Homo sapiens: one gene and its partners. The protein of the gene in region 1 interacts with the protein of each later gene in a pairwise test. Each region holds a gene or a part of one and is shown in the gene's direction. Other genes may lie near its edges.

What was found.
Region 2: the proteins of NTAQ1 (region 1) and EIF4G1 interact in binary tests that used the Homo sapiens proteins (3 or more experiments, as listed by UniProt).
Region 3: the proteins of NTAQ1 (region 1) and CTH interact in binary tests that used the Homo sapiens proteins (3 or more experiments, as listed by UniProt).
Region 4: the proteins of NTAQ1 (region 1) and SPINDOC interact in binary tests that used the Homo sapiens proteins (3 or more experiments, as listed by UniProt).
Region 5: the proteins of NTAQ1 (region 1) and MAGEA11 interact in binary tests that used the Homo sapiens proteins (3 or more experiments, as listed by UniProt).
Region 6: the proteins of NTAQ1 (region 1) and RAD54L interact in binary tests that used the Homo sapiens proteins (3 or more experiments, as listed by UniProt).
Region 7: the proteins of NTAQ1 (region 1) and KCTD15 interact in binary tests that used the Homo sapiens proteins (3 or more experiments, as listed by UniProt).

The regions. Positions count from the first base shown.
Region 1 is NC_000008.11:123,433,774-123,437,273, forward strand, and holds part of NTAQ1 (protein N-terminal glutamine amidohydrolase), read left to right. Parts: intron 1-1,668; exon of another isoform or gene 1,669-1,739; coding exon of another isoform or gene 1,740-1,769; intron 1,770-2,679; coding exon 2,680-2,828; intron 2,829-3,436; coding exon 3,437-3,500. UniProt on the Homo sapiens protein: Mediates the side-chain deamidation of N-terminal glutamine residues to glutamate, an important step in N-end rule pathway of protein degradation.
Region 2 is NC_000003.12:184,328,106-184,331,605, forward strand, and holds part of EIF4G1 (eukaryotic translation initiation factor 4 gamma 1), read left to right. Parts: intron 1-525; coding exon 526-651; intron 652-803; coding exon 804-885; intron 886-3,160; coding exon 3,161-3,259; intron 3,260-3,366; coding exon 3,367-3,500.
Region 3 is NC_000001.11:70,431,768-70,435,267, forward strand, and holds part of CTH (cystathionine gamma-lyase), read left to right. Parts: intron 1-315; coding exon 316-468; intron 469-2,060; coding exon 2,061-2,182; intron 2,183-3,357; coding exon 3,358-3,410; intron 3,411-3,500. UniProt on the Homo sapiens protein: Catalyzes the last step in the trans-sulfuration pathway from L-methionine to L-cysteine in a pyridoxal-5'-phosphate (PLP)-dependent manner, which consists on cleaving the L,L-cystathionine molecule into L-cysteine, ammonia and 2-oxobutanoate.
Region 4 is NC_000011.10:63,816,456-63,819,955, forward strand, and holds part of SPINDOC (spindlin interactor and repressor of chromatin-binding protein), read left to right. Parts: intron 1-1,349; coding exon 1,350-1,679; intron 1,680-1,760; coding exon 1,761-1,910; intron 1,911-2,071; coding exon 2,072-2,197; intron 2,198-2,346; coding exon 2,347-2,547; intron 2,548-3,500. UniProt on the Homo sapiens protein: Chromatin protein that stabilizes SPIN1 and enhances its association with histone H3 trimethylated at both 'Lys-4' and 'Lys-9' (H3K4me3K9me3).
Region 5 is NC_000023.11:149,710,739-149,714,859, forward strand, and holds the start of MAGEA11 (melanoma-associated antigen 11), read left to right. Parts: upstream 1-1,321; 5' UTR 1,322-1,424; intron 1,425-2,404; 5' UTR 2,405-2,421; coding exon 2,422-2,517; intron 2,518-2,531; exon of another isoform or gene 2,532-3,288; coding exon of another isoform or gene 3,289-3,360; intron 3,361-3,742; coding exon 3,743-3,838; intron 3,839-4,121. UniProt on the Homo sapiens protein: Acts as androgen receptor coregulator that increases androgen receptor activity by modulating the receptors interdomain interaction. May play a role in embryonal development and tumor transformation or aspects of tumor progression.
Region 6 is NC_000001.11:46,268,263-46,271,762, forward strand, and holds part of RAD54L (DNA repair and recombination protein RAD54-like), read left to right. Parts: intron 1-2,396; coding exon 2,397-2,523; intron 2,524-3,500. UniProt on the Homo sapiens protein: Plays an essential role in homologous recombination (HR) which is a major pathway for repairing DNA double-strand breaks (DSBs), single-stranded DNA (ssDNA) gaps, and stalled or collapsed replication forks.
Region 7 is NC_000019.10:33,806,870-33,810,369, forward strand, and holds part of KCTD15 (BTB/POZ domain-containing protein KCTD15), read left to right. Parts: coding exon 1-138; intron 139-3,500. UniProt on the Homo sapiens protein: During embryonic development, it is involved in neural crest formation. Inhibits AP2 transcriptional activity by interaction with its activation domain.

The DNA.
Region 1 (3,500 bases):
CATTTACACACTAATGCTTCTAGCAGCACTATGAGGTAGACCAAGCTTGTCTAACCTGCAGCCTATGGGCTGCATGTGGCCCAAGACAGCTTTAAATGCAGCCCAACACAAATTTGTAAACTTTCTTAAAACATTATGAAATTTTTTTGTGATTTTTTTTTTTTTTAGCTTATCAGCAATCGTTAGTGTTAGTGTATTTTATGTGTGGCCCAAGACAATTCTTCTTCCAGTGTGGCCCAGGGAAGCCAAAAGATTGGACACCCTGGAGTTAGATACTCCAGTTATCTCCATTTTATAAAAGAGCAGAGTGAGGTTGCCGAGGGGAGGGGCTGAGATTGGAACCAGGCGCTTACCTGCTCCTGCCTGCATTGCTCTCCTGCCTGCATTGCTCTCCTGCCTCTGATGTTCTCTGTTCTCCACAATATCCTGCAGCAGTTTACCTGGTTCCCATTCACTTCTCTGGGAACTTCTTGAGGGTGAGAACTTATCTTTTTCATCTTTGCATCTGCAGTTCAGCAGCACAGTCTTTCACATAGAATAGATAATGTGTGGTTCAAAAAAACTGATATGGGACTGGGCACAGTGGCTCACACCCATAATCCCAGCACTTTGGGAGGCAGAGGCAGGGAGATCACTTGAGGCCAGGAGTTCGAGACCAGCCTGGTCAACATGGTGAAACCCCATCTCTACTAAAAATACAAAAATTAGCTGGGTGTGGTGGCGCGCCTGTAATCCCAGCTACTCGGGAGGCTGAGGTGGGAAAATCACTCGAACCCCGGAGGTGGAGGTTGCAGTGAGCTGGGATTGTGCCACTGTGCTCCAGCCTGGGTGACAGAGAGAGACTCTGTCTCAAAACAACAACAACAACAAACCTGTAATATGAATTAGAAGATGTTAAGAGAGAAACAGAATTTGGATAAGGCGGAGATTCTGGCAGGGGGTGGGAGAAGATAAAAAATTGATTCGTGGGAAGAAAGCCTTTAGCTGGAGCTTGTGTGGTAGAAAGAGGTAGAGAAGGTTGCTGCAGATGGAGGGGAATGACATGAGCAGACCCATTGGGAGGCAGTGGTGGACTGTTTGGGGGCGTGGAGGATAGGATGTATCTGGGGAAGTCCAGAGAATAGGCATTCATTTTTGAATCTTTCTGTTTTGCTAAGACAGACTTAGAGCCAAAGGCAGCACTCAGGCTTTTAAAGGCACAGCATCCCTAGTCTTAAGTATTGTTCTTACCTCAGGATTTATACAGGGCTCAAGTAGAATGATATTTGAGAAAGAAAGTGCCTTTTAAACTCTAAGATATTGTAGAAATATAAGTTGGTATTACTAATGTTGCTAGGTTGCTTTGATTTCACAGTGCTGTTCTCTATGAGAGCGTTTTTCTTTGGAAGAACTCAGAGCACCACATTGCTCATGTCCCTTGATCACCTCCCTGAAATCCCTTTCAGCTCATCGCTGGTGTTGGGCAGTACCTTGAGTCTGAGAGTGAGGGTGAGAATTAACATCCACACTGTGACAGAGCTGTGTGGGAAAAGCTGTCTTTTTCTTTCTCCCTTAGTGGCTACAGATGAAAGCTTGGCTAACTTCTTTTTTTAAAAAATAGTTTTTCCTTTCTTTTAATTGCAAAAGTGGTTCCAAACTAGAAATTAAAGTCCTCCTTCTCCTCTCCAGGCTGACCCCCAGAAGCCTCCTTTGTTACTAGTTTGGAGCAGATCCTTGCAGACGTTTTCCTCTGCATTCACATGCATGCAAATGTACTTCTGAATGCGCACGTATGTCTTTATATACAGATAGCTTTTAACAAATAGCAGGTGGGGCCGGCACTGTGGCTCACACCTGTAATTCCAGGACTTTGGGAGGCTGAGGCGGGGGGATCACTTGAGGCCAGAAGTTGGAGACCAGCCTGGCCAACATGGTGAAACACCATCTCTACTAAAAATACAAAAATTAGCTGGGCGTGGTGGCGGGTGTCTGTAGTCCCAGCTACTCAGGAGGCTGAGGCAGGAGAATCGCTTGAACCCAGGAGGCGGAGGTTGCAGTGAGCTGAGATTATGCCACTGCACGCCAGCCTGGGTGATAGAGCAAGACTCTGTCTCAATTAAAAAAAATATGTGGGGCCAGGCACCGTGGCTCACACCTGTAATCCTAGCACTTTTGGAGACTGAGGCGGGTGGATCGCCTGAGGTCAGGGGTTCAAGACCAGCCTTGCCAGCATGATGAAACCCTATCTCTACTAAAAATACAAAAAATTAGCTGGGCATCGTGGTGCGCGCTTGTAATCCCAGCTACTCGGGAGGCTGAGGCAAGAGAATTGCTTGAACCCGGCAGGTGGAGGTTGCAGTGAGCTGAGATCATGCCACTGCACTCCAACCTGGGTGACGAGAGTAAGACTCCATCTCAAAAAAAAAAAAAAAAAAAAAGTTTCCTAGAGGTAAAATTGCAGTTTCAGAGGATGTGCATTTAATGACTATGAACATTTCCATTATTTAACCATTTCCCTATCTGTGGACATTTAGTCTGTTTTCATGTTTTCAGGGTGTTGTGTTTGCTTTATTCTATTTTGCTATTATAAGGAGGGCTGTAGCAGTCCTATATCCTTTTTAGTGATAAGGTATGTGTCTGAATACTGGGATTTCATCATTATGAAGTAACTTGGTTAACTTCAGCAACTTTTACTTTTAGGATTACCATGTTGTTTTGCTTCATGTTTCAAGTGGAGGACAGAACTTCATTTATGATCTCGATACTGTCTTGCCATTTCCCTGCCTCTTTGACACTTATGTAGAAGATGCCTTTAAGTCTGATGATGACATTCACCCACAGTTTAGGAGGTGAGGACATTCAAGATGGATTTACTTATTTTCTGAAGTAAGAATTTGACGATTCCACAGAGGTTCTTTTTTTTTTTGACAATTGTTTTGTAAAGATCTCGTCTGACATCACCATTGAGTTGATGTTTAAGAATGATGTATTTGCAACACAGGAGATTCAAAATGTTTTAAAGCTTTAAAAGTTATCTATCATATGAAAGGTTGTCATTCTTTTAAAATTTTGTGTGATGAGATCTCAGACATTTAATTTCAAGCGGGTTGGGGATTTTTCTTATATTCTTTTTGTTTTTGTGGGGATACCTCGTGCTGTCACCATTGAGAGGGCTGTGAGGGCAGCATCAGAAAATCATGCCCATTGCCCTTGATACACAAATCGAGTAAATCGAGGCAACCAGATATATTTTTGTGCCTTTGCCTTTCTGTTTCGGGGTTTGGTTGATCATTTCCTATGCTTCTCTAATAGGTAGTAAAGTTGCCTGTATTACTAACCATACAGAAATGCATGAGTAGTTTTGTGCATGTCATAGGAAATGAGTCGATATAAAAATGGAGTTAGAATTTCAAACATGACATCTCCCTAATGTGAGTGTATATTGATTTTTCTGCAGGAAATTTAGAGTGATCCGTGCAGATTCATATTTGAAGAACTTTGCTTCTGACCGATCTCACATG
Region 2 (3,500 bases), on another chromosome or scaffold:
GGGTGTGGTGGCTTATGCCTGTAATCCCTGCACTTTGGGAGGCCAAGGTGGGTTGGATTCCTTAGAGGATCACGTGAGGTTGGGAGTTCTAGACCAGCCTGGCCAACATGGTGAAACCCTGTCTCTACTAATAATACAAAAATTAGCCAGGCGTGGTGGCACAGTAATCCCAGCTACTCGGAGGCTGAGGCAGGAGAACTGCTTGAACCCGGGAGGTGGAGGTTGCAGTGAGCCGAGATCGTGCCATTGCACTCCAGCCTGGGTGACAAAAGCAAAACTGTCTCAAAAAAAAAACCAAAAAACAGTATGGGTTCCTTGACCATCCTGGTCAGCATAACTTTAGGGGGTTAAGCGGGGTGAAAACCATCTAAGGACACAGAGGTGGCCTTAGCTTGAAATAATTGTCCCCATGTCTAGAAAATGTTCCTGGGGGTTCCATAGTTGATGCCCTAGCCATGCCACGTTGCCCCAGAAGGAGAGTGGGGACCTGGCCTAGAATGTCTTGACTTTGAATTCCCTTGGCAGGTTGTATGAAATCTTGGAATTGGCTGAGGACATGGAAATTGACATCCCCCACGTGTGGCTCTACCTAGCGGAACTGGTAACACCCATTCTGCAGGAAGGTGGGGTGCCCATGGGGGAGCTGTTCAGGTAAGTCCCCCTGGGTGGAATTCAGGGGAGGTAAAGACCAGAGGAAAGGTGGTAGGGAAATGGCTGGGTTGGATACCCTGGTTTGGAGGGAGATGGAGTAGTGGTGAGAGAACTGTGGAGGCTGTCAGCATTAGGTTTTTCTCTTCTTGTAGGGAGATTACAAAGCCTCTGAGACCGTTGGGCAAAGCTGCTTCCCTGTTGCTGGAGATCCTGGGCCTCCTGTGCAAAAGCATGGTGAGTGAGGGCCAGGAGTCCAGAGATGCCTCCCACGGTGTGGTTTTGGCTGTTTGCTGTGGCCCTGAAGCTTCATGGTCCATTGGTGGAGTGGAGTGATGGTGATGACAGGATTGTGTTGGTACCTGGGAGAGGAAATACTGAGGTGGGCCATCTCCCGCACACCAGTTCCTATCATGAGTTCTGGCCAAGACTGGAGGAGAATGGCAGTCTAAGACCCTAGGCCTGTGATTGATGCATTTATTTATTCATTCATTGAACTAGGGTTTTGTTGATGATCATTTATCATATACTAAGCACTAGGGACACAGCAATGAATAAAACACAAGAAACAAGTTGGTAGAGAAAAAGGAAGAAATGGGCCGGGCGCAGTGGCTCACGCCTGTAATCCCAGCACTTTGAGAGGCCGACGTGGGTGGATCACGAGGTCAGGAGTTCAAGACCAGCTTGGCCAATATGGTGAAACCCCATCTCTACTAAAAACACAAAAATTAGCCGTGTTGTGGCAGGTGCCTGTAATTCCACCTACTCAGGAGGCTGAGGCAGGAGAATCACTTGACCCGGGAGGCGGAGGTAGCAGTGAGCCGAGATTGTGCCACTGCACTCCAGCCTGGGAAACAGAGCAAGACTCTGTCTCCAAAAAAGAAAAAAGAAATGACAGCTTGATAAAAACAACAGTAAAGCGTGACATAAAACAGTTGAAATAGAGTGGAGTATCTTAAGTACTGTGGGGTTGCAAAGGAATATTTGACAATATTTGTGACAGGAGGCTTTCAGGGTGCTGAAGCGGCTTTGTGAAAGTTAATTGGTAACTAGCGAATATAAAGGTAAAGAGATGGGGAAAGGTAAGTTGAATGTGGTACTTAGTGGAAGTGAGAAGTTGGGGTGAGTGTGTGCAGTTTCAAGGGTTCAGCCATCTGGAACCTGGAGGAATCACACTTGGGATTTAAAGGAATTGTTATGTCAACATCATTTAATTCTTTTAAATAGACGTGTACCAGGACAAGTTGTTTTTTAACAACAAATAAGCATATTGAACTATTTGTGTATTTCATCAACTCCAAGGTGCCATAGATTATAAGACATTCTTTATGCGCTGTTAAGAAAGAAAAGACTGGGCCGGGCGTGGTAATCCCAGCACTTTGGGAGGCAGAGGTGGGTGGATCACGTGAGGTCAGGAGTTGGAAACCAGCCTGGCCAACATGATGAAACCCTGTATCTACTAAAAATACAAAAAAATTAGCTGGACATGGTGGTGCGCACCTGTAGTCCCAGCTACTTGGGAGGCTGAGGCAGGAGAATTGCTTGAACCCAGGAGGGGGAGGTTGCAGTAAGCCAAGATTGTGCCACTGCACTCCAGCCTGGGCGACAGAGCAAGACTCTGTCTCAAAATAAAAAAAGATATATATCGGCTGTAAGACAACTTTTAGTTAAAATGTGAAAAAATGGGCATGTTTTAAAATCTGTGAACTGCAATAATCTTGCTAAGAGCCAGTGCCATTAGTCTGTTATAAAGAAAAGAGTGATGTCTTCATAGTCTATTGCCCCTTACAGAAAATGCACTCAGACTGCTGGTTTTATGAGGATTTTTTATTTGTGTTAGGGATGGGGTATATTTGTGTCTTAAGATTTTCTGGGTTTAGGAAACAAGCATACTTGTTAGAAGTTGTCCCTTCCTAGAGGCCCTTACATCATTTTTCCTACCCTAGTGTCATAGCACTTTGGTGGACAAGTTCTCTTTTATTTTATTTTATTATTATTATTTTTTTGAGACAGAGTCTCGCTGTGTCGCCCAGGCTGGAGTGCAGTGGCGTGATCTCAGCTCATTGCAACCCTCGCCTTGGGTTCAAGCGATTCTCCTGCCTCAGCCTCCCGAGTAGCTGGGATTACAGGCACCCACCACCACGCCTGGCTAATTTTTGTATTTTCTGTAGAGACGGGGTTTCACCATGTTGGTCAGGCTGGTCTCCGACTCCTGACCTCAGGTGATCCGCCCACCTCGACCTTTCAGAGTGCTAGGATTACAGGCGTGAGCCACCGCCCGCTCCTGGGACGAGTTCTTATTTATTTGGGTGGTTATTTGACTGACATCTGTGCCCTGCACCAGACCGTAGGAATGGAAGGGCTTTGCCTATTAGTATTTCTATAGCATCCTTAATGCCTAGCAAGTACCTAGTAGGCTTTCAGTAAATATTTGTTGGATTAATGTGGTAGAGCTGTTGGGTCCTTGGAGAGAGAGAGCTTTGGTAAGCTGGGTTGGTCTTGTGTTTTCCAGGGTCCTAAAAAGGTGGGGACGCTGTGGCGAGAAGCCGGGCTTAGCTGGAAGGAATTTCTACCTGAAGGCCAGGACATTGGTGCATTCGTCGCTGAACAGGTTTGGGGATGGAGTTGGGTTAATTCTAGCATTTGAGGCTGGCCAGTCTTCTTTCTTGTCTCCTGTTGGCAACCTTACCTCTTAACTGCGGGCCTTTTCCATTGCAGAAGGTGGAGTATACCCTGGGAGAGGAGTCGGAAGCCCCTGGCCAGAGGGCACTCCCCTCCGAGGAGCTGAACAGGCAGCTGGAGAAGCTGCTGAAGGAGGGCAGCAGTAACCAGCGGGTGTTCGACTGGATAGA
Region 3 (3,500 bases), on another chromosome or scaffold:
TAGGCTATGAACAATTTATGATTTTATTAAAATCATAGAAAGGACTACTTATCTTCATATTTGAGAAGTTTATATCATTGTGCTTTTACTTAGTTTTCAGCATATTTGCTTCCCCTCATTTTAAAGTAAATTTCTCTAAGCATATTCTATGCTTTGTTCTTCTGCTTCTGATTTGATATATTATTTTCCTCCTAGAACTCAAACATTGAGCTTTACACCTAGCTTCTGAGAGTCACTGTAATGGAAAAGAGAAGCCAGATAATTTCTTGGCCATACCCTGCCTTCAAACTTATCCAGGATGTGTTCATTTTGCAGCTCTTGGAGCAGTTCCATCTCCTATTGATTGTTACCTCTGCAATCGAGGTCTGAAGACTCTACATGTCCGAATGGAAAAGCATTTCAAAAACGGAATGGCAGTTGCCCAGTTCCTGGAATCTAATCCTTGGGTAGAAAAGGTTATTTATCCTGGTATGTTAATTTGATTTCTAAGCAGATCTACTAGGATTTCAGCAGTTATCCTGAGCATCGTGTTTATGTAACATTTATTTGTAAGTTAGGTGCTTTCACGTATTGTTTTTGTTCATTTATTATTGAGCACTGCCATGTGTCAGGCTCTGTGGTGGGTCAGGTGGAAAGAAGATAGACCTGGTCTCTACTGTTGTATTGCCTCTAGTTTAGTGGATGCTTGGATAGTAGAAAATCAGTTTTATGCATTAGTTGTTCCTGTGGTGGTCTGTGATTTGAAGGCTTGTGTATACCTATTCAAAGATTTTAACATTAGACTTTTCAGTTGATTTGCTTATAATCTTGTCTGTCTGCTATTCAGCATTAGCTGTCACTTTAATCTGATAGAGGTTTGTCCCAGTTGAGACTTGATATTAGGTGCTAAAATTCCCCTGAGGTTCTCTCTCTCTCTTTTTTTTTTTTTTTTTTTTTGAGACGGAGTTTCACTCTTGCCCAGGCTGGAGTGCAATGATGCAATTTCAGCTCACTGCAACCTCTGCCTCCCGGGTTCAAGTGATTCTCTTGCCTCAGCCTCCCGAGTAGCTGGGATTACAGGTGCCCGCCACCACGCCCAGCTATTTTTTGTATTTTTAGTAAAGACGGGGTTTCACCATGTTGGCCAGTCTGGTCTCGAACTCCTGACCTCAGGTGATCTGCCTGCCTTGGCCTCTCAAAGTGCTGGGATTACAGGCGTGAGCCACTACGCCCAGCCCCCTGAGGTTCTCTCCTGTATTTCTCTCCTGTATTTTTATTCCTTCACCTCTTCCAGCATCTAGAAAGTCTTCTGTGGAGTTGGCTGACTTACATCTTACTTTTTGAATTTATTTTTACCAGTCTTTTAAGCTGTGGTGGTCCTAAGTAGTTCTTTTCTTTTTAGATCCTTTTGAGGGTTCTAGCATCTAGAATATATAGAAAAATTAAGACTGGAATTTCACTAGGAAATTCACAAGGAATTTAGAGAAACCAAAGCGAAATACATATGAAACTAAATGCCCTAAAGGTACTTTAGGTAAAGAGCTGTTGATTGATATATATTTTGGATGGAGGGAGAGAGAAGAGTTTTGAGCTATGCCATGAAGAATGGGCAGCATTGGTTAAAAGGGCATAGACAAGGTATTGGAGATTTATTCAAGAAATTTTTATTAAACGCCAGCTATGAGCCAGGCTTTGCACTAGGAACTGGGATCCAATTAGTAACAAAAGAAATGGATTTGCCCTCATGGAGCAACTCTGGTGGCTAAGACAGATACTAAGCAAGAAATTACAGGATATAATTAACAAGGGAAGTCCAGGTTGAAGGGACAGCATGTGCAAAGGTCCTGAGATGAAAGGGAGTGCAGTGGTGCTGGCATAAAGAAAGCTGAAGAGGGTAGAAAAGATGAGGCAACATGAAGCTGGAGAGATAGGGGCCCAAGCAAGTAGTCAGATGTGAGCATGGCATAATCCTCGTCTTAGGCTTATTTGCAGTTAAGTAGACAGTGAAAAATACCACCCTCCCCCCCCAAAAATTACATGTTTAATTCTAAAATAAGACTTATGATACCTTATGATTACAGGGCTGCCCTCTCATCCACAGCATGAGTTGGTGAAGCGTCAGTGTACAGGTTGTACAGGGATGGTCACCTTTTATATTAAGGGCACTCTTCAGCATGCTGAGATTTTCCTCAAGAACCTAAAGGTAAACTTACAAAATAGGTTTAAAATTGTAGGAGGTAAGGCCTTACAGCAGTTCACTATCTCTCACTTCTACTCAAGCCAGATAATGTTTTTGTATCTGCAGGTTACACTCATAAACCTCTTTATCATGAAATGCATTGGGTTGAAAACAACTTAAACAACAATGTAGCAGACATCTAAATATGTTCACTTACTTAACTCTCCACATACTACAATCAGTTTGGAGACACAGAGTATTCTAATGCATTTATTTAAAAGTGAACCCCTTTTTTCAGATGAAATAGGTAAAACCTCGAAGTAGTGTGCAGTTAGTGCACTGCACAAGGGCTGTTCTAAAATCCATCCTGTGAATGGCTTTCCAAACCCTGTGCCTCCTAAGCTGCATCTGACTGGGGTGAGGCCTTTGTCTAATTTTCAAAAAGCCAGGAGGAGGCTCTCAGGGGCCTTGAGCAAGAGGCCTGTCCAACTCCATACACTGGGCTTAACCTTGAGCTCATGCAGTTTATATACTACAGAATAGATTAACAGAAAGCTGCCAGATTAGTCAAAGTGTTCCTGGTGTCACCTTAATTTAATACATTTACCAAAGTAACTTTTAAAACATTTGTAAAGTTTTATGACACTATCACACTCAACATAAAAACAGTGGTTTTTTTTTTTTCCCCTATTCCAGCAGGGATTTAAAGGATGTATTTCATAAGTGATATATATTAACAAGGAAGTATGTATAACTTGGGAAGCATTTAGAGATTTTTTTATTTAAGTGGTAACCACAGAGCAAAGTCTCAAATGCAATAATTTTTTTTTTTTTTTTTTTTTTTTTAGGCAGAGTTTCACTCTTTTGCCCAGACTGGAGTTCAGTGGCATGATCTCGGCTCACTGCAACCTCCACCTCCTGGGTTGAAGTGATACTCCTGCTTCAGCCTTCCAGGTAGCTGGGATTACAGGTGCGTGCCACCATGCTCAGCTAATTTTTGTATTTTTAGTAGAGATGGGGTTTCACTAGTTGGCCAGGCTGGTCTCGAACTCCTGACCTCGGTGATCCGCCTGACTTGGCCTCCCAAAGTGCTGGGATTACAGGCATGAGCCACTGTGCCTGGCCTAAAAACATTTATTTTTAGATTTTAGTATTTTTATTTTACTAGAAAATCTAAATTCATGTTTTCTTTGCTATAGCTATTTACTCTGGCCGAGAGCTTGGGAGGATTCGAAAGCCTTGCTGAGCTTCCGTAAGTATAGTTCTGTTTTTCTCAGTATTTTAAATTTGATGTCAGCTTTAATGATTGGGAAAGAAATATGATAAGGTCAGGGATAATTCA
Region 4 (3,500 bases), on another chromosome or scaffold:
TGAGAGGTCATTTCTGCCCATGGTCGCATGAGAGATAGGTACAAGACATATCTCGTATCTCTTTCAGACACCACCTCTTGTATCCATGCAAGCCGAGGCTCCTATTTCTCATACCACCTCTTCCATGCAGCCCCCAGGTATTAGGGCCTCCTGTGTTTTAATTTTGTCCCATCCTCTCTGGAAGGTAGGAGGGAGATGCAGCCGTGAAGGATCATGGGCACTTCGTAAAAGCACTGAGCTTCCAGGCTGATGCAGGTCTAAGGCTGCCTTCTTTGCTGAACTGGAAAGGGTGATGCCCTGTGAAAGCTTATGGTCTGTCTGTGTACACAAAGAGCAGGTATCAGGCAGCAATAGGAGTGGGACCATGGCTGTAAATGCTCTGTGAGCACTGAGAAGGGAGGCGAGTTCTGAGGGGATGGGGTGGCCTTTAGAACGGGCATGGTGGCTCATGCCTATAATCCCAGCACTTTGGGAGGCTGAAGCAGGAGGATTGCTTGAGCCCGGGAGTTCACAACCAGCCTGGGCAACATAGCAAGACCCCATCTCTTAAAAATTATTTTTTTGTTTGTTAATTAGCTGGGTGTGATAGCATGCATCTATCTGTAGCCCTAGCTACTCAGGTGGCTAAGGCTGGAGGGTCCCTTGAGTCCAGGAGTTGAAGGCAGCAGTAAGCTATGATAACACCACTGTACTCCAGCCTGGGTGACAAAATGAGACCCCCATCTTTTAAAAAAAAAATTATTAGCCAGGCATGGTGGCGCTCACCTGTAGTCCCAGGTGCTTGGGAGGCTGAAGCAGGAGGATCGCTTGAACCCAGGAGGTCAAGGCTGCAATGAGCTGAGATTACGCCATTGCATTCCAGCCTGGGTGACAAAGTGAGACTCTGTCTCAAAATAAATAAATAAAATTTAAAAATTAAAAGAATTTACCTTCCTCATCCTCAAGAAAGTGTAGAAGTCAGATTTGGATGAAATCTATTGTCAGGGATTGGGGTTCTGGAAAGCTTCGCAGGGATGATGTTGCCCAGCCCAATTAGGGTGGTCTGGACAGATGTGCAAAGGCTGGAGACCTGCAAGAATGCAGCCTGTTGGGAAAGTATGTGTAGTTAGTCCTAAGGTCCAAGACTAGATCAAGAGGAAGTATAGACGCGAGAGTCGTGGGATCCCGGGCACATCGGCTGTGTTGAGTGTGGCGTGTGCCTCATGGGCTCCAGGGGAAGGAAGAAGAACACTTTGGCCAGAAATGCTCTCCTCCCCCATCCCACTCAAACCACTGAGTCTGGAGACGTGCTAAGTGTTGTTGGTTGTGGGCACCTTTAGTGATAACACCCTCCCCCTCTCCCCTCGCAGTGACCCAACAGGAGAAGACCCCACCGCCTAGACCCAGCCCGCTAGAGGCAGGCAGTGATGGCTGTGAGGAGCCGAAGCAGCAGGTGTCTTGGGAGCAGGAGTTCCTGGTGGGCAGCAGCCCAGGAGGCAGCGGGCGGGCACTGTGCATGGTGTGTGGCGCTGAGATCCGGGCACCCTCGGCCGACACAGCTCGCTCGCACATCTTGGAGCAGCACCCTCACACCTTGGACCTGAGCCCTTCTGAGAAGAGCAATATCCTGGAGGCCTGGAGTGAAGGGGTGGCCCTCTTGCAAGACGTGAGAGCTGAGCAGCCGTCCCCACCCAACTCAGGTAGTTGGTCCTGGGGCTGGCGAAGGGAGAAGTCGGACTTGTTGGGGCACTAGAAGCTCATTGTGCTCTTGCTCCCTGCAGACTCGGGCCAGGATGCCCACCCAGACCCAGACGCCAACCCAGACGCTGCCAGAATGCCAGCCGAAATCGTCGTTCTCCTTGACTCTGAGGATAACCCATCCCTCCCTAAAAGGAGCCGGCCCAGGGGACTCCGCCCCCTCGAGCTTCCTGGTTAGTCAACAGAGAAGCCAGTGAGCCCCGGTGGAGGTGGGGGTTTGGGGACAGGGTGAAATACAGGCCCTGTGTTCTGGGCAGGTATCTTCAGGAGCCCTGGGGTGGCAGGGTTCGGGGATGGCCTCTTTAAAAGGGTATGAGGTCTTTTCTTTTTGCAGCTGTCCCTGCCACAGAGCCAGGAAATAAGAAGCCCCGTGGTCAGAGATGGAAGGAACCCCCAGGGGAAGAGCCAGTCAGAAAGAAAAGAGGCAGACCTATGACCAAAAACCTGGACCCTGACCCAGGTGAAGGGGAGGCCCGGGGGAGGCGTGGGCTCTGGCCGCAGTGCTCTGAGGAAATCCGCATCAGTGAGGATGGAGCAGGGCCTGGGCGCAGGGCGCCTGCAGCTCCTGAGGCTTTTTCACTCACAGTTCCATCCCGTCCTCCCTTCCAGAGCCCCCATCGCCAGACTCGCCCACGGAGACTTTCGCAGCACCAGCCGAGGTCCGACACTTCACTGACGGCAGCTTCCCCGCCGGCTTCGTCTTGCAGCTCTTCTCCCACACCCAGCTCAGGGGCCCAGACAGCAAGGACTCACCCAAAGACAGGGAAGTGGCAGAAGGAGGCCTTCCCCGGGCGGAGAGCCCCTCTCCAGGTGAGCCCTCCTGAGAGGGAAGCACAGTAGGGACCTCGCAGGCAGCGCTCCTGGGCCAGGCCTCAGAGAGGCTGCTCTATGGCAGAGCCCACAGTAGGGGTGGGTGGGGTGGGTGGGGTGGGTGGTGCTCAGGTTTCCTGGTACACGGGGCCGGGGCAGGGGATCTGAATGATGAGGAAGGCTGGCCTGAAAGCTGAGCTTTTCTTTTTCTGTTTGTTTGTTTTTTGAGACGGAATCTTGCTCTGTTGCCCAGGCTGGCATGTAGTAGCACAAGCCCGGCTCACTACAACCTCTGCCTCCCAGGTTCAAGCAATTCTCCTGCCTCACCCTCCCTAGTAGCTGGGATTACAGGCGTGCGCCACCATACCCGGCTAATTTTTGTATTTTTAGTAGAGACAGGGTTTTCCCATGTTGGCCAGGTTGGTCTCAAACTCTTGACCTCAGGTGATCCAACTGCCTTGGCCTCGCAAAGTACACCACGCCTGGCCTATTTTTTTATTTTTTATTTTTTGAGACAAGAGTCTTGCTCTGTCGCCCAGGCTGGAGTGCAGTGGCGCGATCTCGGTTCAGTGCATCCTCTGCTTCCCAGGTTCAAGCGATTCTCCTGCCTCACCCTCCTGAGTAGCTGGGATTACAGGCGTGTGCCACCATGCCCAGCTAATTTTTGTATTTTTAGTAGAGACAGGGTTTCGCCATGTTGGCCAGGCTGGTCTCGAACTCCTGACCTCAGGTGATCCACCTGCCTCAGCCTCCCAAACTGCTAGGATTACAGGCGTGAGCCACCGCACCTGACCAGGTGGGCTTTTCTTAGTGTTTCCTTGTTTCCTGGAATTGGTCACTGGGTCCGGGTAGGCCAGTGTTTCCCAGAAGCCTGATACTGATTTCCACACATGCAGTTTGTTCTAGCTAGAGCCTGAGGGGTGCCCACCTTACCCTGGTGGAGCTGAGGCCCA
Region 5 (4,121 bases), on another chromosome or scaffold:
CAAAGTGTTTGGATTACAGGTGTGAACCACCGCGTTCAGTCTTGGGCTTCTATCTTAGACTCCCCAAAACAACCCGGGAAAACTAAAGAATAAAAATAAATAAATAAAGGAACAAGCAAACAATATCAAAAAAGAAATCTAAACAAAAAAAACATGAGAGAGCCCTGAGAATTTCATTGTATTTTGAAGGAATACTTGTGATTGGCGGGGAAGAGTGGCAGGGAAGTTGGGGTGGATAGGAAGAAAGAAATGTTTAAAATTCTGCCCCTACTTCACTGTGGAAAACTCGGGTAGGGTCTCAGACCACAGGTGCCAGTAGTCATGGGGTAACTTCAGGACATGAGGAAACACTGGTTGATTAAAGGAATACGGCTGGAATTTGTGCTGATAACCACTAAAACCACGTCAGTAAATAAAGATTGGCTTTTTAAAAATTATCGTTTTAATTGAAGATAAAGAATGGATTAAATTAGAGTATTGACCATTAGAGTGAAATAGGCAGTTAGGTTAAGTATGATTTTTGACACTGAATGAGAATTAAAAAATGAAAATCACTAAAATGAACTATGAAGTGTTAGATAAATTCTAAACGCAGGACTTCCGCAAATTTCTTGCAGCCACTCAGCCTCTTCAGTGTAAAAATAAAGCTTTCAGGGCAAAAGTTTGCAAAGTCTAGATCTGGCTGGGGAGGAGCCCCCGTAGGAAGGTGTGCATCTTCTCCCAGAGGTCACTACAATCACGGGTACTGAAGCCACATGGAAGCACCTAGCCTGGGATCCGCAGCTATTGTCTGCAAGGGGTGCAGTTGGGCAATGCTCAGAGGTGACAGAAACAGAGCATCTCCCACCCATCACTTCATGAAAGAACCAGTAGCCAAGAGGAGGACCCTCCTGAGTGAGGACTGACGGTCCACCCTCCCCACATAGAGGGGCCACAGAATCCAGCTCGGTCCCTCCTGTCAGCCCCGGAAGACCTTGGCAATGTTGTCCCCCGACCTCACACCTCCCGCTCACTGCCACCTCAGGGGACTCAGAGTCAGAGACTTGGTCCGAGAGGAGCAGACATCATTGGCAGAGGACGGAGCTCCAGGCTCTGCAAGGAATCAAGGTCAGAAACCTGAGGGAGGACTGAGGCACCCCCATGACCCTCGACCACATCTGCACCCCTCGCCACTACTTTTCCCCCTGCCCCACCCCGCCCCGCCCCGCCTCGCCTCGCCCCGCCCCGCCTCGCCTCGCCCCGCCCCCACACGGGCAGAATCGGGTTCGCTCCTGCTGTAAATCCAGGGAAGCTCCAGGCGTGGGGGCCGGATGTGACCTCCATTGGCTTCCGCCTCTGGGATCTGAGAGAAGCGAAAGCGTCTTTCTGAGGGGTGTCTTGAGAGTGGCAGAGGGCAGCGGGTCCAGGCTCCATGAGGAGGCAAGGTGAGAGCTGAGGGAGGACTGAGGAGTCCTCCTACCCAGATAGAGGGCCCCAAATAATCCAGCGCCAACCCTGGAGCCAGCCCTGAAACAACAGGGGACCAAATTATCAGGCTGAGACAATCCCCCTCCTCAATGCCCAAGGAGACTCTGCGAGTCTATGGTGTGACCCGGGCAGAGGCAGTTCCATAAAGGGTGGGGCCCCGGCCTTTCCAGGCATCAACATCAGGACTCTGAGAAATTATGGAGAGGTTCCACCCCATCCTGATAGAGGGGCCACAAAGTCCATCCTTGTCCCTGCAGACAACGCAAAGGACCTCCGGGCTTGGTACTGCGGAGTTGCACATTAGGGGGTCAGAGAGAAGTGATAGCCCGGTTCTGAAGGGCGGCTTGTGACCTGCTGAGGGCAGCGGGCCCAGGCTCTGTGAGGAGGCAAGATGAGATGCTGAGGGAGGACTGAGGATGCTCCCTACCCAGATAGAGGACCCCAGATAATCCAGCACCGCCTCTGCTGCCAGCCCTGGATCACCCCATGGGGATGGACTTCTCAGGCTGGGCCGTCCCCTCTGACACCCCCCTCGGCTTCTGCCCCCCGCCGCTTAAGCCTCAGGGGACTGTGGGGTCAGAGCTTGGTGTGACCAGGGCAGGGCTGGTTGGGGGGGGCAGGACCCAGGTTCTGCCAGGCATCAAGGTCAGGACCCCGAGGGAGGGCTGAGGCCCCACAGAGCAAGGCTCCCTCTCTGCTGTCAGTCCTGGGAAGTTCCTGGCATTGCTGCCAGGCAAGTGGATCCTGATTTCCGCATCCTGGGCTGACAGAGGGAAGGGGCTTGGTATCATGAGAAAGACCTAGGGGGAGCACAGACAGGGCTCAGTCCCTGCTGGGAGGTGAGCAAGGCCTGAGGGACAACTGAAGGGACCCAGCACCCCAGAACAGCCCCCCCCCATAGTCCCGCCGTCTCAAACTGAGGTGCCTTTTCATTCAGCCTTGGGAATCTGAGGGATGGAGACTCAGTTCCGCAGAGGGGGTCTGGGGTGCAGCCCTGCCAGCATCAAGAGGAAGAAGAAGAGGGAGGACTCAGGAGACTTTGGACTCCAGGTCAGTAGGGACCTTGGCCCTTGGAGTTCCAAGGCACGGTGGCCACATGTGGTGCATCCTCACTCTGCCTTTGGGGTGTCAGCAAGGAGTGGGTTGTGGTCTGAGGAGTGGAGCCTCAGGTCAACCCAGGGAGGAGTCCCAGAGGGAGGACTCAGGCAACCAATTATCCCTGAGGTAGAAAACCTGCCCCTGCCATCGGTCCTTGGAGGCCCCAAGCAGGACTCTAGGAAAGAGAGGCAGCTCCCCACTTCCTAGTTGGGGTTCTCTGGGAGATGGTGGTCGTGGCCTGCAAAACTCATCCACAGTTCAGCAGGAGAGACATGGATAGGCCTTGTCAGGAGTAAATCTGAATACCTGGAGGAAACCCAGAGAGAGGAGGCACCCCTGAAATCTGCTTCATCTGTCAGCCTTTGGCATCCCATGAGGGGTGTCCATGTAGTGCCCCTTCACTTTCTGCCTCCCATATCTCAGAGAGGTGGGGCCCTTGGTCTGAGGCAGGTCCTCAGGTCAGCAGAGGGATACACACCTGGTCAGCACAGGGTGGAGTCCAGGATCTGCCAGTAGTCAAGGAGAGGAAAATTGATGAAGACTGAAGGTAAGAATGTACCCTCCCACATGCCAAAGAAAAAGGGACCTCACCAATCCTTGCTTCCTCTGTTTTCATCCCTCGGAGGCCCAAGTTGGGGAGGCATGTGCCATGCTCACATTTCTGCCACGAGGTTGGGGGTGGCACCTTGCTCAGGGAGGTGAGCACCTTGTTTCAAGGGGGTGATGACAGGTCAGCAGGTGGAGCCACACCTGATCAGCAGAGGGAGGAGTCCCAGGATCTTTAGGACTCAAGGTGTATGTGTCCCCTTGGTGAGGACTGGAGATACCCACATCCCATAATGAAGGGATCCCACAGAGTCTCTCTGTCCCCTGTCCTTGGCTGTGTGGGGACCTCATCACGGGTGGCCCCAAGTGGCAAGGTCACTTGTACCACAGGCAGAAAGTTGGGAAACCTTCAGGGAGATGAGGTCTTGGTGTAAAGGGATATGTCTGCTCATCTCAGGGGTTGGGAGTCAAGGAAGGACAGGCCCTGGCAGAAGTAAAGATGAAAAACCCACAGGAGGACTTTGGAATCCCCAGAACCGAAGGGTCCAGCCTCTGCTGTCAGCCCTGGACAACCACATGATGGGGTGATGGGACGTGGGGCCCCTTACTTCTGTTTTGGAATCTTGGGCAGGTGAGCACTATGTTCTCAGAGGACGACTTCCAGTCAACAGAAAGAGCCCCATATGGTCCACAACTACAGTGGTCCCAGGATCTGCCAAGAGTCCAGGTGAGAAACCTGAGGGAGGATTGAGGGTTCCTCCTGGCCAGAACACAGAGGGCTGCTTAGAAATCTGCTCTGCCCCTGCTGTCTCCCCAGAGAGCATGTGCAGGACTATGTGCTGAGACCCCTCTCTTATACTGGGATCATTGGTCTCAGGGAGCGGGAGACATTGGTCTGAGAGGGCTGCACTTAGGTCAGCAGTGGGAGGGTCCCAGGCCATGACCAGAATCAAGGTGGGGGCTGACGGGACAGCACTTACCAAAAACATGGGACTCAGCCCTTCCCTGCC
Region 6 (3,500 bases), on another chromosome or scaffold:
GGCTGTGATCATGCCACTGCACTCTAGCCTGGGCAACAGAGCAAGGCCCTGTCTCTAAAATAGTAATAATAATCAAAACTCCTCATTCCTCCCTCCCCTAATCCCTGGCAACCACACATATATTTGTGAAAGGGTGTGTTAGTGTCACCCCAACTTGCCAGTGCTCAAGAGTAGGCAGAGAACCTGCTGAGTGGCAAGATTATGACCAAGTGAACACATTTGTGTAACCACCATCAGATGAATTACTAACACTCTCTCAGCAGCCCCTTTTCTAATCACTATCCTCTCCTTTTGTCCCGGCAGCAAACTCCTTCCTGACACTATAGGTTGGTTTTGCCTATTTTTGAATTTATGTTAATGAAATCATATAGTATGTATTCCTTTACATCTGGTTTCTTTTGTTCAACATGTTTATAAAGTTTATCCACATTATGTGTAGCAGTAGTTTGTTCATTTTCATAATTGCATACTATTGCATGTTATGAGTACACTACAATTTATTCTACTGGTTTGGTTTTGTTTGTTGAGACAGAGTCTCTGTTGCCCAGGCTGGAGTACAGCGTTGCAGTCATAGCTCACTGTACCCTCAACTTCCTGGGCTCAAGCAATCCTCCCACTTTGGCCTCCTGAGTAGCTGGGACTACAGGCATATGCCACCACTATTGGCTAACTTTTAAATTTTTTATAGAGATGGGGTCTCATATGTTGCTCAGGCTGGTCTTGAATTCCTGGGTTCAAATGATTCTCTTGTATCAGCCTCCCAAACTGCTGGAATTATGGGCATGAGCCCCTATGCCTGGCTTCCATCTTTTTCTGTTTGGATATCTGGTTCACCCTACATCATATATTGAAAAAACCGTTCTTTCCCCCATTGCTTTGCAGTGCTACCTTCTTCATAAATCAAATGTTCATATATGTGTTGCTCTATTTATGGACTCTATTCTGTTCCTCTGGTCCGTTTGTCTCCTTGTGTCAGTACTTCTCTGCTTTATTTACTGTGGCCTAATAAGTCTTGATATCCATTAGTGTGAATATTCCAACTATAGTCTTTTTTTTTTTTTTTTGACACAGGGTCTCGCTTTGTCACCCAGGCTGGAATGCAGTGGTGAGATCATGGCTCACTGCAGCCTTAACTTCCGGGCTCTAGTGATCCTCCTGCCTCAGCCTCCTGAGTAGCTGGGACAACAGGCACACACCATCATGCCTGGCTAATTTTTGTATTTTGGGTAGAGGTGGGGTTTTGCCATGTTGCCCAGGCTGGTCTTGAACTCTTGAGCTCAAGCAATCTGCTCAGCCTCCAACTATATTCTTACTCCTTAACATTGTCCTAGATATTCTTGGCCCTTTGCATTCCCATGTAAATTTTAGAATCAACTTGTCAATTTATACACCTACTGCCTGCCATACCCACCAAAAAACTCTAACTGGATTTTAATTGGGCTGTATTGAAACAGATAAATTCTGAAAGATCTTTCATTTTTATAATACGGAACCTTCCAATATATTAATATGATCTGTCTCTCAACTTGTTTAGGTCATCTTTAATTTCTCTCAATGTGGCCAGGTGTGGTGGCTCACAACTGTAATCCCAGCACTTTGGGAGACCAAGGCGGGAGGGTACCTTGAGCCCAGGAGTTCAAGACCAGCCTGGGCAACATGGCAAAATCCCATCTCTACAAAAAAAATACAAAAGTTAGCTGAGTGTGGTGGCATGTGCCTGTAGTCCCAGCTACTTGGGAGGTTGAGGCTGTGGTGAGCCATGATTGCCCCATTGCATTCCAGCCTGGGCGACAGGGAGAGAACCTGTCTCAAAAAAAAAAAAATTGGCCGGGCACGGTGGCTCATGCCTGTAATCCCAGCACTTTGGGAGGCTGAGGCGGGCAGATCGCGAGATCAGGAGTTCGAGACCAGCGTGGCCAACATGGTGAAACCCCGTCTCTACTAGAAATACAAAAATTACCTGGGCACGGAGAAGGGGTGCCTGTAATCCCAACTACTCGGGAGGCTGAGGCAGGAGAATTGCCTGAACCTGGGAGGCAGAGGTTGCAGTGAGCCGAGATTGCACTCCAGCCTGGGTGACAGAGCAAGACTCCATTGCAGGAAAAAAAAAAAATCCACTCTGGCCATGTTTGTCTTTTTAGTGGACTATTCAATCCATTTACATTTACTCTAAGTAATTATATATTTGGATTTTAACCTATCATCTCACTTTTGGCCTTTCAAGTCTTCACTGCTTTGATACCTCTCTGATCTGTTAAACAGAAATTGGCCTATATTTTGTTTAGCCTTGTTCTTGGTAGGAAGGCTGGTTTGTGAGAAGGTAGTCTGCCATCACTAGCTGTGGGAAAATCATTCCTTTTCCACATTCTTCTGTTTTCCTTCTCTCCTGTGTTTAGGGACTGCCCATGAATTCAAGAAGCATTTTGAATTGCCAATTTTGAAGGGTCGAGACGCTGCTGCTAGTGAGGCAGACAGGCAGCTAGGAGAGGAGCGGCTGCGGGAGCTCACCAGCATTGTGAATAGGTAATGACCTTAAGCGAAGTCATTAGAATTGCCTCCCAAACCATCCATGGCCAATCCTTTGGGGGCTTTGCCTCTCTAGAGCCCTCAAAGGCTGGGATTCTAGGAAGGGAGTGGGTTCTGTGTCCTAACTATGGCCACTGAATAAACAAGGGAGTCTTGGAGGTGAAGTGCCTGCTTTCTTTCTGGCTTGGGCTCTGTGGTCTGGTTTTGGTCTGTTTATCAGCCTGCTGAGGAAGCTTTTCTCTGATGCTGCTGGACTTCTTGAGCAAAGTATACCTTGGAGCATTACTAGTATTTCAGAAGCTTCCTGTCAGTTGGTCTCAGACCCGAAACATTAGGCTTCTCTTCCCAGGCCCCATAGTCATTCTGTGACAGGTAGGAGAAGATCTGAAAGGTGGTTGTGGCTCCCAGGCTAAGGGGACTGACTTTTTCATGGGAGTTACATAACCCAGAGGGTAGGCACATTCTGGACTCCTTTGTCCAGAGGTGGTATGCACACTTGATAGGTTACATTCTAAAGAGTCCTCCTGCCCTTCCCAACAACTGCCTGGCTACCTGGCTACCTCTCCCTACCAATTTTAGATGGCAGGACGGGCATGGTGGCTCACGCCTATAATCCCACCACTTTGGGAAGCTGAGGCGAGTGGATCACTTGAGGTAAGGAGTTCGAGACCAGCCTGGCCAACATGGGGAAACTCCCATCTCTACTAAATATACAGAAATTAGCTGGGTGTGGTTGGGGTGCACCTGTAGTCCCGGTTACTCTGGAGGGAGAGGCTGGAGAATCGCTTGAACTCGAGAGGCAGAGGTTGGAGTGAGCTGAGCTGCGCCACTGCACCCCAGCCTGGGTGACAGAGCAAGACTCCGTCTCAAAAAAAAAAAATTAGATGGCAGGAAGAAGAATTGGTGTTTTCTTAAGATCTGCTTCTTAGGTGCCTGATACCTATCCTTCATAGTCTTCCCAGGAGGTCTATGCT
Region 7 (3,500 bases), on another chromosome or scaffold:
CGCCTCTTCAATGGCACTGAACCCATCGTCCTGGACAGTTTGAAGCAACATTATTTCATTGACCGGGATGGGGAGATTTTCCGCTACGTCCTGAGCTTCCTGCGGACGTCCAAGCTGCTGCTTCCGGATGACTTTAAGGTAAGTCCATGGCTGGTGGCCCCCCTGCACTGCCTGTGTGATGGCATTACACAGGGGACGCTGTGACTTAATAAGTGGACCCCTGGTTGTCATGGTAACCATAAAAAGTTAAACGATGAAGCCGAGGGCTAAATCAGTTTTTCTAAACTAATTTTGTTTTCTCACATTTTTAGCTTATTTATCAGGGTATATAACAACAATCAAGCTGCAGAACGTATCCCAGCTGAACATTTGTCGTGTTTAAGGATGGGCGCGTGCCAGCGTTATAGTAGTTAGAGGTTCATAAATCTGTTCCATCGGCTGGGTGCAGTGGTTCATGCCTGTAATCCCAGCACTTTGGGAGGCCAAGGTGGGTGGATCACTTGAGGTCAGGAGTTCAAGACCAACTTGGCCAACTTGATGAAACCCCATCTCTACTGAAAATGCAAAAATTAGGCCTGGAGCGGTGGCTCACGCCTGTAATCCCAGCACTTTGGGAGGCCGAGGCGGGTGGATCACCAGGTCAGGAGTTTGAGACCAGCCTGGCCAAGATGGTGAAACACCGTCTCTGCTAAAAATAGAAAAATTAGCCAGGCGTGGTGGCAGGCCTGTAATCCCAGCTACTCGGGAGGCTGAGACAGGAGAACCACTTGAACCCAGGAGGCAGAGGTTACAGTGGGCCGAGATTGCGCCACTGCACTCTAGCCTGGGCGACAGAGCAAGACTCCGTCTCAAAAAAGAGAAAGAAAAGGACGGCTGTAATTAGACTTCAAAAAATAAAGTATAAAAAGAAAAATGCAAAAATTAGCCGGGCATGGTGACAGGTGCCTGTAATACCAGCCACTTGGGAAGCTGAGGCAGGAGAATCTCTTGAACCCAGGAGGTGGAGGCGGAGGTTGCAGTGAGCCGAGATCACGTCACTGCACTCCAGCCTGGATGACGGAGCAAGACTCTGTCTCAAAAAAAAAAAAAAATCTGTTCTGTGTTGGGCAATTTGCAGGGAGAAAAGCCCTGATGACCAAACAGATACCCTTTAAACAAAAGGTTAACCCCCAGGTCTCCGGGTGAGCCCGTCAGGGCAGGTGACCTGGTTCCCTGGGTCATGCCTCAGTGCTGAGCCCCTCCCACATGTCAGGGACTCTGGGAGGAAGGAAACTCAGGCCTGGGGTACACTGGCATGTATTAATACTAGCAAATGTCTGTCCTTCCTTCCTTCATTCCTTCCTCTATCCAGAGGACCAGTAGCCCTGGGGCCTTGTCTTTCATCCAGCTCAGTTACTGAGTGCCAGCCTCTGAATTCAGGCTGAAAACAGTGAAACACACACACTAGGACCTGCCCCACAACACTTAACAGTCTAGCGGGCAGACAGATACTGAACTTGAAGTCCATGTGACCTGGGCTGGGCGGGTTTGAAAGAAATGATGTTCATCTGGGTGGTGAAGGCAGAACGGGGCCAAACAGGTGTGAGGGCCTTGGTGCAGGGGATGGGGGTGGCAGATGGCTTGATGCATTCCAGAACTGGAAAGAAGGTGTCAAGCCTGGAGCTTTATGGACTGGGAGGGGAAGGTCAGGAAAGGAGGCTGCTGTTTGATGTCAGGACCTTGGTGGGTGGCCCAGTGCCTGGCATTTAACTCTGAATGCAGTGGAAGGGGTGTGTGCAGGGGAAGGGCAGTCAGATCTGCAAATTGGGAAGATCTCTCTGGCTGTTGGGTGGGGAAGAAGGCAGAGAGGGGTGGGGGTGGGTGCAGTGAGGCAATTATGGATGAGGCCCCTTCCCCAGGCCAAGGGAGGCTGGGTGGAGGCTTTGGATGGACCAGGATGGAGATAGAGAAGATGGAGCAAGGTGGCACATCAGACTTCTGTTTAGTACAGGCACAGTGGCTCACTTGGTCATCCCAGCACTTTGGGAGGCCGAATGGGGAGGATCCTTTGAGGCCTGGAGTTCAAGACCAGCCTGGACAACATAGCAAGATGCTGTCTATACAAATTTGTTTTTTAATTAAAAAAGGCCGGGTGCGGTGGCTCACACCTGTAATTCTAGCGCTTTGGGAGGCCGATTTAGGTGGATCACCTGAGGTCAGGAGTTCGAGACCAGCCTGACCAATATGGTGAAACCCCATCTCTCTTAAAAATACAAAAATGAGCCGGGCGTGGTGGTGTGCACCTGTAGTCCCAGCTACTCGGGAGACTGAGACAGGAGAATTGCTTGAACCCAGGAGGTGGATGTTGCAGTGAGCTGAGGTCACACCACTGCACTCCAGCCTGGGCAACAGAGCAAGGTTTCATAAGTAAATAAATAAACTTTACTTTTAAAGTTTTTTAAGAGTAATTTATTTACTTTTCATAAGTAAATAAATAAACAAGCAAGCAAGCTGCAAAAGCACGTGGCTGTGGTAGTGTAAAGGGCCTCTTGCAGGTGCCCCGGGACTTGTGGCTTGAATTCTGAGTTGGTAAGTTGAGGCCCGGGGTGGACCAGGCTGTGGGAGTGGGGTTTCTGCCCCTGCATGGGAGAGCTGGTGGGGCATCAGATGGAGAAATCCTGGGCCATGACAAAAGATGGGGTTGTCTGTCATGCAGTTGTCATTTAAAATCTCAGGAGAATGGCCAGGAGAGGTGGCTCACACCTGTAATCCCAGTGCTTTGGGAGGCCAAGCAGGAGGATCATTTGATCCCAGGAATTCCAGACCAGCCTGGACCTTGTGTCTACAAATAATTATTATTGTTATTATTATTATTATCCTGGCATGATGGCTCATGCCTGTAGTCTCAGCTGCTCGGGAGGCTGAGTCAGGAGGATCCCTTGAGCCTGGGAGTTCAAGGCTGCAGTGAGCTATGATCACATCACTGCACTCCAGTCTGGGCTACAGAATGAGACCCTGTCTAAAGAAAATAAAATAAAAATCTCAGGAGCAAGTGAGAGTGGAGAGAGCAGAGGCCCAGGATAGAGCCCTGAGGAGCCCTTGCATGGGGCAGGAGAGGCAGGATGGGCCACTGACCCATGACAGGCCCAGAGGTCAGGGTTAGAATCTAGGCCTCCCTCCAGGCGGCCAGCAGGTGGAAGGGACTTAGGGCCTGTAGGTCAGGGGGCTGGGCTTCCTTGCCTCTTCCTCAGGCATGAGTCATGGGGACCTATGGGACCTTGGCCATTCCCAGTGGGGTGGGTGTGTGTGAGCGTGTATAGTGTGCATATGTGGCCCAGGGCATGGGGCCAGTATCAGCGCCTGAGGGACAGTCTGTGCGAGGCTGCTTAGCCCAGAAGGGGGCTGCGTGGCAGGGGGCGGGCTTCCCCTCCCTGGACACTTTATCACACTCTGCCTGTTTGGGCAGGGGCTGGACCAGGCACTTGGCACATCTTGCATCCTTTGATCCTCACTTTCATTCT